3 separate regions of the Homo sapiens genome follow, and regions 2 and 3 are each linked to region 1. The links come from fine-mapping of genetic effects on gene expression. A gene starts in region 1. Each other region holds a variant in brackets. All regions are shown on one strand. Distances are between the middles of the regions. Region 1 holds the start of ADM2 (adrenomedullin 2). Region 2 overlaps SBF1 (SET binding factor 1). Region 3 overlaps SBF1 (SET binding factor 1).

Region 1 (2,750 bases):
GAGCGCAGGGGTTGGGGAGACAGAAGGGGAAGCACGAACGGACGCAGAGATCCTCAGCTCACCCAACAGAGAGGCCAGTCTCAGCAGCTTGGAACCCGTGACACCAAGTCCAGGACTCGTGGACAGTGGGTAGGCGAAAGCTCTGTGGAGAACAGTGAACCATCTATCAACATAAACACATGCTCACCTTCAACCAGAATTTCTACTTCCAGGAAGGTGTCCTATAGACACATCTGTGAGCTCAAGGCAGCAACTCATGAAAAGACTGGCAGTCACCTAATTTCATATTAATAGCAGATGAGATGAATCATACAACACCTATATGTTGGAGTAGATCCAACCATAGGAAAGAGTGGGGTCTCTGATGTGAGGACGGTCGGGCTGTGACGCCTGTCACCCCACTGGTCACCAGTGTTGATTCGGCTGATGTGGCTGGCTCAGAGGCAGGTGTCCCCCTCCTTCCCCACTGTTCCCTGTGCGTCCCTCCGAAGCTGCACGCTCCATCGAAGAGGATGGAGGACCGGGCTTCGAGTAGCTGCGCTCCTCTGCCAGGACCTCCAAACAAGCTCTCAGGAAAGAACGGGGTCTCAGTCCTACTGCAAATCTGCACACATGGATGTGTGTGCCTCACATAGCCACACCTAGGTGTGCCCAGGGCAAGTCAGGAGAGGGCTCCCCCCCAGACCAGGGTAGGGGTCCCAAGTGGGTGGCAATGGTGAGGGGAGTCTCACGTTTCACTCGTTTTAAATTTTTCTTTTTCTTTTTTTTTTTTCTTTTTTTGAGACGGAGTCTCGCTCTGTCGCCCAAGCTGGAGTGCAATGCCGCGATGTCGGCTCACTGCAACCTCCGCCGCCTGGATTCAAGCCTCAGCCTTTCCTGCCTCAGCCTCCCGAGTAGCTGAGATTACAGGCACCCGCCACCACGCCCGGCTAATTTTTTGTATTTTTAGTAGAGACGGCCTTTCACCTTGTTAGCCAGGATGGTCTCGATCTCCTGACCTCGTGATCCGCCCGCCTCGGCTTCCCAAACTGCTGGGATTACAGGCGTGAGCCACCGCGCCCGGACACTTTAAATCTGTTACAAAAACCGTGCAATACTTTGGTCCGGGGTTGGAGCGGCCGAGGGTCGGTACAGCCTTTTAGGAGCGCAGCCCCGGGGTCGGCGGCACCGCGTCAGAGGAGAGCGGAATGGCCAGCCCGCTGCGGAATCCCGCGGACTTGCTGGTCAGGCTGGGGGGCCGGGGTCCACCGGGTCAGACCCTGGAGGGTGGGACCGCCCGGACTCGGGAGGTGGTTGACGGGGTGGGCCCCGTCGGGTCCGAGTCCGCCCCAGCCGTGGGATCAGCTCGGACGACGGTTCGCCCCCCAGAACCCCGCTGCAGCGTGGGGAAGTCCGGCCCCCGCAGGCTCGGGGCTGCGTCCCCACCAGAAGGCGCTTGGAGTGAGGCTGGCGGTCCCGCGGTCCCGGGCCGGTCGCCGAGCGCTCCCAGCGGGGACAGGCCCCTCCACCGCTCCCTTCGCCGCAGCCCCCTCCCCGCCCCGAGGGTGGCTGGGCCCGGAGGAGGGGCGCCCCGCCCCGTCCGTGCATCCGGCTCCGCCCCTTGCTGGAAAGGCTACGTATTCAGCCCTGGAGGTGCCATCCCGGGCCGCGACTCCGCTCCAGGCAGGACCCCCAACCCGCCCAGCCCGCTCCGCCTTGCGCCCCGGACCCGCGGCCGACCCCAGACCCGCTGCCCGCTTCGCGCCCGAGGCCTGCGCCCCGACGGACGCCCGTGCCCAGCTTGCCACGCCCACGCCCGGCGCCCCGACCGCGGAGGACTCCCCGAGGTGCCGGCGGAGGGGGTGGCTCGCGGCTCAGGCTGCCCCCGACGTGCCCGGCTCACCGCCCCCTCCCCTGCAGCCCCGCCCGCCATGGCCCGGATCCCGACGGCCGCCCTGGGTTGCATCAGCCTCCTCTGCCTGCAGCTCCCTGGCTCGCTGTCCCGCAGCCTGGGCGGGGACCCGCGACCCGTCAAACCCAGGTGAGTCCAGGTCTTGGGCCAGCCAACCCCTCTGGCCCCCGCAGGGAAGCAGAGTGCCGGGGGCCGCGGGGCCGCCCTCCCTCCACGCCTCCACCTGCTGCTAGGACTCCCCTCCCAAACAAAGGCCCCTACCCCAGGCTCAGGAGCGCCTGAGCAGGGCCAGAGGCCCCTCTTTCTCTGCCTCCCTACACAGGGCAGTTGCTCCTCCCCACACACATGGGCACAGCAGCCCCTCTTCTGGGGGTGTCTGCTGGGGGAGGGGAGGCTGGCGGTATCCCTGGCCGGCCTGTGACCACCCTAAAGGGAGGGCAGAAGCCGAGTCACCCTGAGCCCTGAGAGTGGTGACCCGCAGAGGCTGGGCCGCCGGGGTGCCCTTTGGCCAAGGAGGTGCCGGTTCCCGGGACACGTGACCCGGGCCACTGAGATGGTCCCAGGCCCAAGCCCAGAGGGGACGCGGGCTTCCCCTGGCCGTGCTCCAGGCTGTGTGTGGATGGGGGCTGTGGGCTTCCCCTGGCAGTGACCCAGGCCTGTGTAGAGGCAAAAGTGGGCAGGTGTGAGTTCTCCAAAAGGCTGAGCCATCTGGTTGACATTCTCCATCTGCCTCTGCAGGGAGCCCCCAGCCCGGAGCCCTTCCAGCAGCCTGCAGCCCAGGCACCCCGCACCCCGACCTGTGGTCTGGAAGCTTCACCGGGCCCTCCAGGCACAGAGGGGTGCCGGCCTGGCCCCTGTT
Region 2 (2,750 bases), 21 kb before region 1:
AAGACAGTCTGGATTGGGGGATGCAGGGAGGGTGGAGTGTGGGGGATGAGGAAAAACAGTGACACTGGGAGGGAACAGGACAGAGGAGCATCTGGGATGTTTCCAGGCTGTGGGAAATGGTAAGACAGAGCCGCGTAGAGGCAGCACCCGGAGGACCCTACAGGAAGCTGCAGCAGACGCAGAGGTGGAGAGCGGGCAGGACGTCAGGGCGGGCAGGAGGTCAGGGCACACACCTGGTCTGGGCACACACTTGGTCTGGACAGGCTTCCCGCCCCTGCCCCACGGCACCCGGAGGGCATGCTCCTCATCCCACACCCAAACATCCATGACCAGCGCCGTTTCTGCTCCTCCCTGGCCTGCCTGCCAAACCATAAATGCCACCACGGCCCCCCAAAGTGCCCCTGCCCCACCGTCTGCCCACAAGCACCCTCACCGTGACTGCCCATGTGGGCTGAGGAGAAGCCGCTAAGCGTGTTGCGTCCCGACGCGTCGGCGTAGCGGGGCATGGAGCTGACCACAGCCTGCAGGTACTTCTCCTGCTCCAGGCTACTCGAGTCCGCCTGGGACTGGCCTGGGGGAGGACACGGAGCTGAGGGAGGGGAGGGTGAGATAGGGCAGGGCAGGCACAGGGCAGGACGCAGGAGGTACCTGGAGAAGGTGCGTTCTGGGCCTTGAAGAGGCCGACGACACCTTTGCCATGCAGGCCTCCAGAGCGCAGCAGCACCGCCTTGGACCGCCCGCTGCGCCAGCAGACCACGGGGAAGCGGTTCTGGCGGTAGCAGCGGGACACGCGCTGCAGGGCGTTGTCCTGGACACTCTGGGGCACGATCAGCAGCCCTGGGTAGCTGAGAGGAGGCAGAGGCGTGAAGGTGGCTGGCGACCCCACCCGCCTCCAGGCTCACGCCCCAAGCAGGGCAAGAGGAGCCAGCCCATGGCTCCCAGCAGGAGGCGCTTCCAGCTCAGCCACGGGGCCCCCCAGCCACCCCCCAGCCCTGTGGCCCGTCCCTCTGCCCGGAGTCTCCCCCTCCACATTCCTTACATGACCAGAAGCCGTGGCCCAGGCCCACAGCGGGCAGGGAAGACACCCAGTCACGTGTCCACCACCCGGGCCAGCCCTGGCCGGCCCTCACCTGCGGCAGATGGCATACATGCGGTTGACCGGAGAAATGCGGAAGGGCTCAGACTTGGCCCGGCTCAGGCTGCTGCTCAGGGTGCCCAGACCGAGGCGCTGGTAGTCGCGACAGCAAGCCCTTTCCACCAGGCTGCTCATGGTCATGCGGTCGGAGGGCTTCAGGGCTGAGGACGGGGTCAGCGTGCTGGGCTCCAGCTCCTCCGACACTGCACAGGCCGGGCACACGTGGTCATCAC[G/A]GGGCCACTCCGCCTGCCCTGATCCTCCCTGGCCAATGTCAGCATCCAGAGACCACCCAGGACTCCACCCCCACCCCTCCACCTGAGATCTCGTCCTCCTGGTCCTCAGGGGGCGGCTGGCCCCGGTGCTCCCAGCTGGGGGGGTTGTACTTCTTGCGAGTGACATGCTGCCGCCCGATGGTCTTCTTGGCGTTCTTGACCAGGTTCCGGGACAGGGTTCTGAGGCCCACGAGAGTCAGCAAAGGTGAGAGGAGGAGGGACAAAGATGAGCACAGGGGCCTAGGAGGGTTGGAGCGGGAACACGGCTGAGGCCCAGCTGCCCTGCCTGGGACCCAGATCCATACCTGAGGGAAGGACCCTTGTCCTTGGTGACTCGCGGTGGCCGGCCAGGTGTGTGGGCAGAGCCCAAGGTGAACGCAAAGGTGGCCCTGATGTCCGGCGGGTACCGCAGCTTATGCAGCTGCTTACGGAAGAGCTCGGCGCTGTCAGACCCCACCTCCTCGTCAAAGGCCATTTTCAGCAGCTGTGTCAGTAAAAGCAGCCCTTAGGGGTGTGGGTGGCCCCCCAGCCCCTCCCCCAACTCTGACACTGCCAGGCTCCCCTTCCCCTCGCAGCCATGACAGAGAGAGAAGCAGGCCCCAGGCAAAGGCCTGTATCTGTGTCACACGAAGGCAAGCGCTTGTGTAAACTCGAAATCTCAGTGGCTGTGAGCTGAGGCCTGGGTTTGCAAGGCACACCCAAGACACGGACTTGAGGGCCGGCGCCCCAAGGAAAGGACAAGGACCCAAAGACCGCACATCAAACAGTGGACATCAACTCAAGAGCCACAGTGAGGGCCCCAGACATGCAAGCGTAACAACAGGGCCACTGCTGGAGACTGGCCTAAAAATGGTTCATACAAGAAAGACCGGTTTGCAGGAGAAAGACCAGGGCGGGGGATGAGAGCCCCACCCGCGCACCGCGCCCCACCTGGAATGTGCAGGAGCGCAGCTGGAGCCCGTCCTGCAGGAGCTGGTCCACAGGGGTCTGGACGCTGATGCGCTTCTCCTTGGTCAGCGCAGCCACCGGGAAGGAGCGGACCACCACCTGCTCCCCAACTTAGGACAGGCCAGGCAGAGTCAGAAGCAAGGAAGGTAAGGGGGGGGGGGTCCCAGAATCTCAGGGTACCACAGTTATGGGGAATCCCAAGTGGGTGGGGAAGGAGCAGACAAAGGCCCGTTTCCCACGGGCACCCAGAACCCCCGAGAAAAGGGAGAGGGAGGCAGGGAAAGCCCATCCATCCCAAAGACCTGGGGGAGAGGGGGCGACAGGGCCAGAGAGTCTGCAGGCTCACCCAGGGGGTCCGTGGGCATCCCCGTGAAGATGACCCGGTACGTGGTGAG
Region 3 (2,750 bases), 34 kb before region 1:
CTCTGGCCAGGTCACCAGCTGCCACTCTCAGATGTTCTCTTGGCCTTTGCAGCGTCTATAACCCTCCCCACCTTCTGCTCCTGCACCCCTGGCCAGGCCTCGTCACAGGCAAGGACACAACAGCTCAGCAGGTGAAGCCCTGGGCCTGGTGGGACTCAGGTTTGAATAGGAAAAGAGCAGTGAGGGGCCACAGTGACACCAAGAAGGGAAGGACGGGGGCCCTCTGAGACCCCAGGGAAAGGACTTTTGGGGCAGAATTCCCAAGAACTGAGAGGGTCCATCCCCCATGGGCGTTGGCCCCTTACTCTGCCAGATGCTGCTCGTTGCCTGGCAGGAGCCAGATGTGGTCAACCTGCATTCCCCTGGGAGCCCACTGTCCCCCCCCCCCCCCCGCCTCCGGCCTCCATCCCTTCAGCTCGGGTCTAGCCAGAAACTGACGTCCACCTCAAGTGTCCTCTGGACCTGCAACAGCCTTCTGGGGTCAAATGACCACCCACCCTTTCACCCCCAAGCCTCTGTGAGGTCAGCTTCTGCATCCCCTGGGTAGGGATGGGGGCTTCCTCTCCAGCCGTGCCGGCCCCTAGACCAGCCCTGAGGCGTGGAGGGAATCAAGCAAGTCCCCAGTGAAGCCTCCTGCTCGATCCGCCCCCAGAGCAAAGTCACTCCCAGGGACATGCAGGCCGAGCTGGGTGGACCCAGGCACCAGGAGAGGCTCACGAGAAAGATGCCAACCTCCCGCCAGGTGGGCCTGGATAGGGGCAGATGGGACCCTCTGGGTAGGCCGAGAGCAGGCAGCCGGGGAGTGGGGAAGGCAGGCACAGGAGCGTGGCGTTAGTTCTCTCTTTATATAGACTCTGGTTCTAGAAACTCGCCTGCAGCCGCTGGCTGGACCAGCACACGCTGACGGGGCCGGACTATTTACAGGCCCATTGCGGGCTGTACCTTGGCCACCTCCCGGCACGGTGCTCAGCTGTGACGCCAAAATAAGTTAGGGCCGGCCGGGCGGGGCGGGGCGGGGACGGGGGCTGTACACACAAGTGCTGGGGGCTCGGGGCCTCAATACTGTCGAGGGCCGGGGCTGTAAACATGGCCGGGGCGGCCCTGCCCACCCCTAGTGGTCGGTAACGACCGGAAGCAGAGCAGCCGGGCAGGGCTGGGAGGCTCAGGCGTCCGACAGGCAGCTCTGGATCCGGTCCACCCACTGCTGGGCCGAGGGCACGTCCTGGGCACAGAAGTTGTAAACGCGACGCGTTGTCTTCACCTGGGGAAGGGCGGGTTACTGACTCCGCAGCCCCCACACCGCAGAGCCCCTCCCCTCTCCCAAGCCCCGGCCAAGGCTCACGTCAAAGAAGGCCTTCTCGTCCACAGTCTTAGGGGCACCCATAGTGGGCGTGCCAGGTGCCACAGCCTCCACCTCCGCCAAGTCGATGACACCCTTGCACTCTGTGTCCACACGGTGGTCGTAGTAGCGCAGCTGGAGGAGG[CCA/C]CAGAGTCAGCGGAGCCCCCTCCCCCGTGAGTCCCCCCCACCACCTGATCACTCACCTGGTGCTTGGTCTTGTCCAGCACGAACCAGCGGGCCTTCCAAGGCTTCATGAAGGCCCCCTTCTTGTACAGAGTGCCCTCGTAGGACCTGCATTTCCAGCAGAACCAGGGCCAGGCTGACCGTCATGGCCCAGCCAAGCCCAGGCCCCAGCAGTCGTCCCCCCCTTGCTGTCCCAGCCCAGGAGGTAAGACCAGGCACCCTGTCCCCAGAACTGACCTAAGCCCAGAGCACTGGCCAGGGGGCCACAAAGAAGCCTTTGATGGGGGGCTGCAGGCCCAAGAAGACGACGCCCAGAAAGGAGACAGTGAAGGGCGCCTCACACCCTCCAGACTCCAGGGAGCATCCCCACACCAGAGCCTCAGGGTCTTGGGAAAGCAGCCCCCTACACAGGGCAGGCGCCCTTACGAGGAGAGGGATGGCCAGGCAGGTAGATCTGTAGAAGCAGCCACGGCAGCAGCTGCCTGGGATGGATCCTGCCAGACTCCAGACTCACGGGGGCCCCACCACTGCCCTCTCTCTACTCCTCCCTCAGCCACTGCAGGCTGTGGTCAGCTGTGGTCACCAGTTCGACACCCCAAACCCCTCCCAGTGGTGGTGTATACTTAAGCAAGCTCCTCAAAAGCACCCGCAATCTCCCACCAGAGGACTGCCTGGGACCCCAGAACACCAGCTCAGAGGTGTCCATGTGGCAGTGGGAGGTGCCCTCATACCTGTTCTCACTCTCTGCTGTCTGGAACTGGCTGTACAGGGTGCTGGTGCTGCGGCGGGCAGCCTGACGGGAGCCGGATGTGGTTGAGCCACTACTCTGGTCGCTGTCCAGGCTGAGGCTCAGGGTGGAGCCCACGGGCCCCTCCTGCAGGTACACACCCAGCGAGCGACGGTGGTGGGGTGCGGTGGACACAAGGAGGGAGCTAGGGGTGCCCTGGGAACAGGAGGTTGGGACTTGGGTCAGGGCTGGACAGACTCCACTTTCTCCCAGCAACACGCCCACCGTGGACGCTCACACTGGCCCTCACTCACACGGCCGTCTGGCCGGCCCTCGAGGCGCTGTGCAGCCTTCACCCGGTCCCAGGTGTCCTTCCAGCGCTCAGCGGGTTGGCCCAACTCTGTCTCCAGCCTCTGCAGCTCCTGGGGGAAGAATTAATGGCAAGTTTATTCAAAAGGAAATATCCAGACTAGAGCACGAAAAGACAAAAGGAAAACACAG

Evidence for each region. PIP is the estimated chance that this variant, and not a neighbour inherited with it, causes the effect.
Region 2: its variant is fine-mapped to the expression of ADM2 in whole blood (TOPMed, PIP 0.98).
Region 3: its variant is fine-mapped to the expression of ADM2 in whole blood (INTERVAL, PIP above 0.99).

Annotation. Positions count from the first base shown.
Region 1 is chr22:50,479,938-50,482,687 of GRCh38, forward strand. ADM2 (adrenomedullin 2) reads left to right here and starts at 1,606. Exons shown (of 3, transcript NM_001253845.2): 1 at 1,606-1,826; 2 at 1,900-2,020; 3 at 2,630-2,750. The coding sequence starts at 1,911. RefSeq lists silencers at 1,393-1,682, 1,733-1,852.
Region 2 is chr22:50,458,822-50,461,571 of GRCh38, forward strand. It overlaps SBF1 (SET binding factor 1), which reads right to left. Exons shown (of 41, transcript NM_002972.4): 22 at 2,702-2,750; 23 at 2,338-2,465; 24 at 1,713-1,891; 25 at 1,451-1,587; 26 at 1,131-1,338; 27 at 649-845; 28 at 434-571. Among named protein-coding and RNA genes, the nearest start is that of SBF1, 15 kb to the right of the region's middle. The variant G/A (reference allele first, on the strand shown) is at 1,369.
Region 3 is chr22:50,445,980-50,448,729 of GRCh38, forward strand. SBF1 (SET binding factor 1) reads right to left here. Exons shown (of 41, transcript NM_002972.4): 37 at 2,564-2,671; 38 at 2,254-2,465; 39 at 1,543-1,630; 40 at 1,343-1,474; 41 at 1-1,261. The coding sequence ends at 1,163. Among named protein-coding and RNA genes, the nearest start is that of SBF1, 28 kb to the right of the region's middle. The variant CCA/C (reference allele first, on the strand shown) is at 1,485.